2 separate regions of the Homo sapiens genome follow, and region 2 is linked to region 1. A link means that fine-mapping ties the variant in region 1 to the expression of a gene that starts in the linked region. Tissue or cell type: whole blood. Region 1 holds a variant in brackets; the other region holds the start of a gene. All regions are shown on one strand. Distances are between the middles of the regions.

Region 1 (2,798 bases):
AGGGCTGCATTGGCCTAGATTGGATCTCCTAGAGAAGGCCCTGGAGATGACACTTACTGGGCCTTTTTAATCCAGTGAATATTTATGGGGCCTCCTATGTGCCAGGCTCTGTGCTGGGCACTGGAGTTGCAGCTGTGACCCATAGATGGGCCTGATCTTGAAAGAGATGAGGGCCGGGCGCAGTGGCTCACACCTGTAATGCCAGCACTTTGGGAGTCTGAGGCGAGAGGATCGCTTCAGCCCAGGAGTTTGAGACCAATCTGGGCAACATAGTGAGACCTTGTCTCTACAAAAAAAAAAAAAAAAAAAAAAATAGAAAAATTAGCCAGGTGTGGTGGCATGCACCTATAATCCCAGCTACTTGGGAGGCTAAGGCAGGAGGATCCCTTGAGCCTAGGAGGTCGAGAGAGCTGTTGTTGCACCCCTGTGCTCCAGCCTGGGCACACAGCGAGATCTTATCTCAAAAAAAAAAAAAAAGACAGAAGGAGAGAGAGAAAAGAAAGATGAGTTAAGCAGAGGAGACCAGCAGGGGATCAGTAACCTCAATACCAAGTGGCCCAGAGCCTTTGTAGTACAGAATAGTGGCACTTGACCCTGACCAAGGAGTCGGGTCAGCCTCCTGGAGGGGGTTATAAGCTGGGTCCTGAAGTCACATTAGGTAAGGGAGAGAGAGAGGAAAAGGACAAAGGGGAAGGGGTGTAGAACCTGTTGGGCAGAGAATGCAGCCCATGCCTTGGAGGTGTGATGGAGCTTGGCACAGGGGGGCTGGAGGTGTTGGGGGGATGCTATTCAGCCTTACTCTACCCTAGCACGTGGCCTTGTTCTCCAGGGCTTATCACCCACCAGGTGAGACCTCTGTCTACCCTTTTGGAGAAGAAGTGTCTGGCCCATTTCTCAGATGAGCCTGATCTCCCAACCCTTGCTCCTTGGGGAAGGTAGAGGGCCACTGGTGAGGAAGAACAGTATTTATAGCGGAGTCTTCCTGCACCCAACGGAGGCAATCTTTTGACTAATGAGGAAACTAAGGCACAAAACATTGTTGCTGCAGGAACTGGAGTAAGGGCCCAGGACCCTGCTTTTCCTTGGCTCCCTGGGCAACTGGGAGCCTGTGGTAGAGAATGCCAGAGAGCGTTCTCTCTAACACGTCACACATGGCTCTTTAGAGGGGCACAAAAGCCTTTTCTACATCTGCACACTTGATCCAGAAACCCAATCTGGGTATCCCAGAGGGATACCTGGACACATATGCAAATGTGAGGGTAC[A/G]AAGGTGTTCACAGTCTTGTTTAGATTGCAAGGACTCTGCGCTGACAGTGGAGGACCCATCAAACCAGTGGCCCTGCAGCCACCTGCTGTGTCACCTGCTCGGGAGGATGCTGCCGTATATTGTTAGGTGGAAAAAATGCATTTGAAAACCACATATGGTCGCATCCCGTTGTCGTTAAAAACCAATCTCATAAGAAGAGAAAATCTCATAAGAAAAAGTTGGGAAGGATATAGAGCCGATGTTAACCGTAATTCTCTCAGGGAGGGGGATTCATTTGGGTGGGTTTTACATTGGTTTTATCTGGCTTACCTGTTTTTTTCTTTTTCTATTTCTTGTGTAATCATTGTAAACACTCATGCAATTTAAAGCAAGGGGAAAACGAGCAGGTATTTTTGTCTTTTAAAAATTTAAGTGGTTTTGATGTTTTGAGCAGGTATACATGACATCATTCAAAATTAAAAAGATACAGAAGGAGGGGAAATTCTGACACACACTACAACATGGATGAACCTTGAGGATATTATGCTAAATGAAATCAGCCAGGCTGGGCGCGGTGGCTCACACCTGTCATCTCAATACTTTGGGAGGCCAAGGTGGGAGAATTGCTTGAGCCCGGGAGTTCGAGACCTGCTGGACAGCATGGTGAAACCCCGTCTCTACAAAAAATAATTTTTAAAAATTAACTGGGCATGGTGGCTCATGCCTATAGTCCCAGCTGCTCCAGAGGCTGAGGCAGGGGGATTGCTTGAGCCCAGGAGGTGGAGGTGCAGTGAGTTGTGTGATTGTACCACTGCACTCCAGCCTGGGCAACAGAGTGAGACGCTGTCTCAAAAAAAAAAAAAAAAAAAAAAAAAAAGAAATAAGAGAAATAAGCTATTCACAGAAGGACAGATACTATCTGATTCTATTTATACAAAGTACCCAGAAGTCGAATCCACAGAGACAGAAAGTAGAAGGGTGGTTGCCAGGGGCTGCGGGGAGAGGGGTACGGGGTACTACTGCTTAACAGGCACAGTTGCAGTTTTGCAAGATGAAAGAGTTCTGGAGATGGATGGAGGTGATGGTTGCACAGCAGTGTGAATGCACTTAATGCCACTTTAAAAATGGTTAAGATGGTAAATTCTATGTTATATGGTTTATTTATTTATTTATTTTTGAGACAGGGTCTTGCTCTGTCACCCAGGCTGGAGTGCAGTGGCGCGATCTTGGCTCACTGCAGCCTTGAGGTCCTGGGCTCAAGCAATCCTCCCACCTCAGCCTCCTGAGTATCTGGGACTATAAGCGGTGCCACCACACCTGGCTAAATTTTTTGTAGAGATGGGGTTTCGCCATGTTGCCCAGGCTGGTCTGGAACTCCTGGGCTCAAGTGATCCACCTGCCCAAAGTGCTGGGATTACAGGCGTGAGCCAACGTGCCTGGCCTGTTATGTGTATTAAGAAAAGATACAGAGGGGACAGAGTGACAGTTCTACCCCATAATCCCCAGCCACCCACGTCGCTGCTGAAGGGAACCAATGTTTTCAGTGTGATGGTGG
Region 2 (2,500 bases), 22 kb before region 1:
AATAACAAGACAAAAATTAAACTGCTAGTAAAAAATGCAGTCGGAAGTATCTGAAACATGCCACATATCTGGTTAAGTGCATACAATGCAAGCCACAGGCGTTCAAAGGTGGGGGTTCAAGGTGGGGGTCACCTCCCCTCTGAGGTTTGCGGTGAGGACCAAATGCGGAAATGGACACGAGGCCCGAGGCCAGCATTGTGGAAGGCCGGTTAGAGCATGCACTTTGGACCATTGTGGCTACTTAACGTCTCAGTGACCTTCTCTGTAAAATGGGGATAATAAATAAGTATGGCGCCTGACATATACTAATGTTTGCAACACGGTTCAGGAGACACCAGAGACTGGAGAACTTGGCCTTTAACGTGGTAGGTGTGAAAACATTTGAATGAATGAATGAATGAATGAATGGGTCCTCGGGTTGCCTCGGTCTGCCCCAGGCGGCCCGCTAAGCCCCATGTCTGTGAAATGAATCCCCAGCTCTCGGGGTCAGCTTCATCTCAGCGTGTGGGTGTGGGTGGTGGGGAGGTGCTGAGCAGCTCAGCAGAGGCGAGGCCCAGGCCGAGTTTGTGGGTGTCATCCCGGGAGGGTCTTGCTCGGCCTCCCCAACCCCCATGCTGCTCGGCTCCTCAGTGGGCGGGGGAACCAGCGGGCTTAGCTGTGCCCGGGCCGATCTCGAGAGGACAAGGCCCGCAGCTAGCATTCGAGGAGCCCACCCCCGGGTCCGCAGCGTGGGGCACGGGCGCCCTCTTATCCCCGAAAGGTCGATCTGGGCCTCCCCAGGCTAGAGTGGGGGTGGGGTGCCGATGCACCTTCGGATACTGTGGTCCCCCAGCCCTTCCAGCCGCGGTCGCGCACATCCGAAGGAATTTGGGGCCAGGGGCATTGCGGGCAGAGAGGACAGAGAAACGGAGCCCTCTCGGCAGGCGACGTGGGAGAGGAGCGCCCTAAAAAGTGGAAAGCGAGCGTTGCCGAGGCTGCTGGCCCCTTTAAGAGGCCCGGCTGGCTCTGCGGCGGTTCCAGCTAACCCGGTCCCTGGTGCAGCTCTGCGGTCCGGGTCCCCCAGCAGAGAATCGGCACCCGGCGGGGAGGCAGGACCAGACGCAGGAGAGGGCGTGGCCCCGCCGGGGAGCTGGGCGGAGTCTATGCTGCGGAGAAAGCGGGAGAACCCGGAGGTGGGCGGAGCCGAGGGTCTGTGGGTGGGGCCCGGCGCTGCGGGCCTCGTGGGGCGGAGCCTCGGGCTCGGGGAACGCCGCAGAGGGAGGAGGGGTGGGCGGGGCCGCGGCGGGGGCGGGGCCAGTGTCTGCAGTGGGCGGGGCCCGCCGCAGAAGGGGCAGTGCCGGCCGAGAGTCCTCTGCGTGCGGCTGCCGCGGCCCCTCCACAGCGTCTCTGACAGCCCGGGCGGTGAGACCCGCGACCCTTCTGGCCCCGCGCAGATACCGCGGCCTCCACCGCGTCCCGAGGAGCGGCCGAGTGCCCTCTCTCGCCTCGGCGCCCGCATCCGGGGCCATCCGTCCTGCCGTCTCTGCGGAGGCCGCATCTGGCGCGCATCTGGAACCGCCCGGCCGGCCGCGCTGGAGCCCGCGCCCACCCTGGCCCGGCCGCGCCGGGAGCCCTGCCCGGAGCTGGAGCCGCACCTGGAGCCGCGGGCCCGGGGCCCTGAGCCGCGCAGCCGGCGCATGGTGAACTCGCTGCTGTTCGGGGAGATGGCCTTGGCCTTCGGCTGCCCGCCGGGCGGCGGCGGCGGGGGCTGCCCTGGCGGGGGCGGCGGCGGCGGCGGGGCAGGGCCGGGTCCGTCGCCGGTGACGGCGGCGCTGCGGGACGACCTGGGCTCCAACATCCACCTCTTGAAGGGGCTCAACGTGCGCTTCCGCTGCTTCCTGGCTAAGGTGCACGAGCTGGAGCGGCGCAACCGGCTGCTGGAGAAGCAGCTGGAGCAGCAGCAGAGCGAGCGCGAGCGGCGGCTGCGCTACAAGACCTTCTCCCGCGAGCAGGCCGTGCAGACCGGGCCCGAGTTGCTGCGGCCCCCGGCGCCCGGCGGCGGGCACGGCCTCAGCAGTGGCGCGGCGGCCGGCGCCAACGCCAATGCCGTGGCCCTGGGCGGCCTGCCCCCCGGCGGCGGCTCGCACCCGCAGCACTACGGCCGCCTGCCCGGGACCATCTGGAGCTACACGCAGGTGCGGCGCACGGGCGGCGGCGGCGTGGAGACCGTGCAGGGCCCCGGCGTGTCGTGGGTGCACCCCGACGGCGTGGGCGTGCAGATCGACACCATCACGCCGGAGATCCGCGCGCTCTACAACGTGCTGGCCAAGGTGAAGCGCGAGCGCGACGAGTATAAGCGGAGGTGAGTGGCCGCCCCTCCCCCGCCGCCCTGGGACGGGGCGCCCAGGTCCAGGCTGCCGCGGAATGCGTATGCGGGACGGGGGCCGGGCGGGCAGCTGGTACTGGCAGGTGGGCTGGAAGCTGTGTTTGCAGAGCGTCTTACGTACGCCAGGAAGGCCCA

What was found. PIP is the estimated chance that this variant, and not a neighbour inherited with it, causes the effect.
Region 2: IFFO2 starts here. The variant in region 1 is fine-mapped to the expression of IFFO2 in whole blood (INTERVAL, PIP 0.95).

Annotation. Positions count from the first base shown.
Region 1 is chr1:18,933,380-18,936,177 of GRCh38, reverse strand. All of the region lies in intron 1 of IFFO2 (intermediate filament family orphan 2), which reads left to right. Among named protein-coding and RNA genes, the nearest start is that of IFFO2, 22 kb to the left of the region's middle. RefSeq lists enhancers at 1-264, 265-810, 2,462-2,798. The variant A/G (reference allele first, on the strand shown) is at 1,264.
Region 2 is chr1:18,955,509-18,958,008 of GRCh38, reverse strand. IFFO2 (intermediate filament family orphan 2) reads left to right here and starts at 1,333. Exons shown (of 9, transcript NM_001136265.2): 1 at 1,333-2,341. The coding sequence starts at 1,677. RefSeq lists silencers at 1,151-1,320, 1,891-2,150, 2,391-2,500.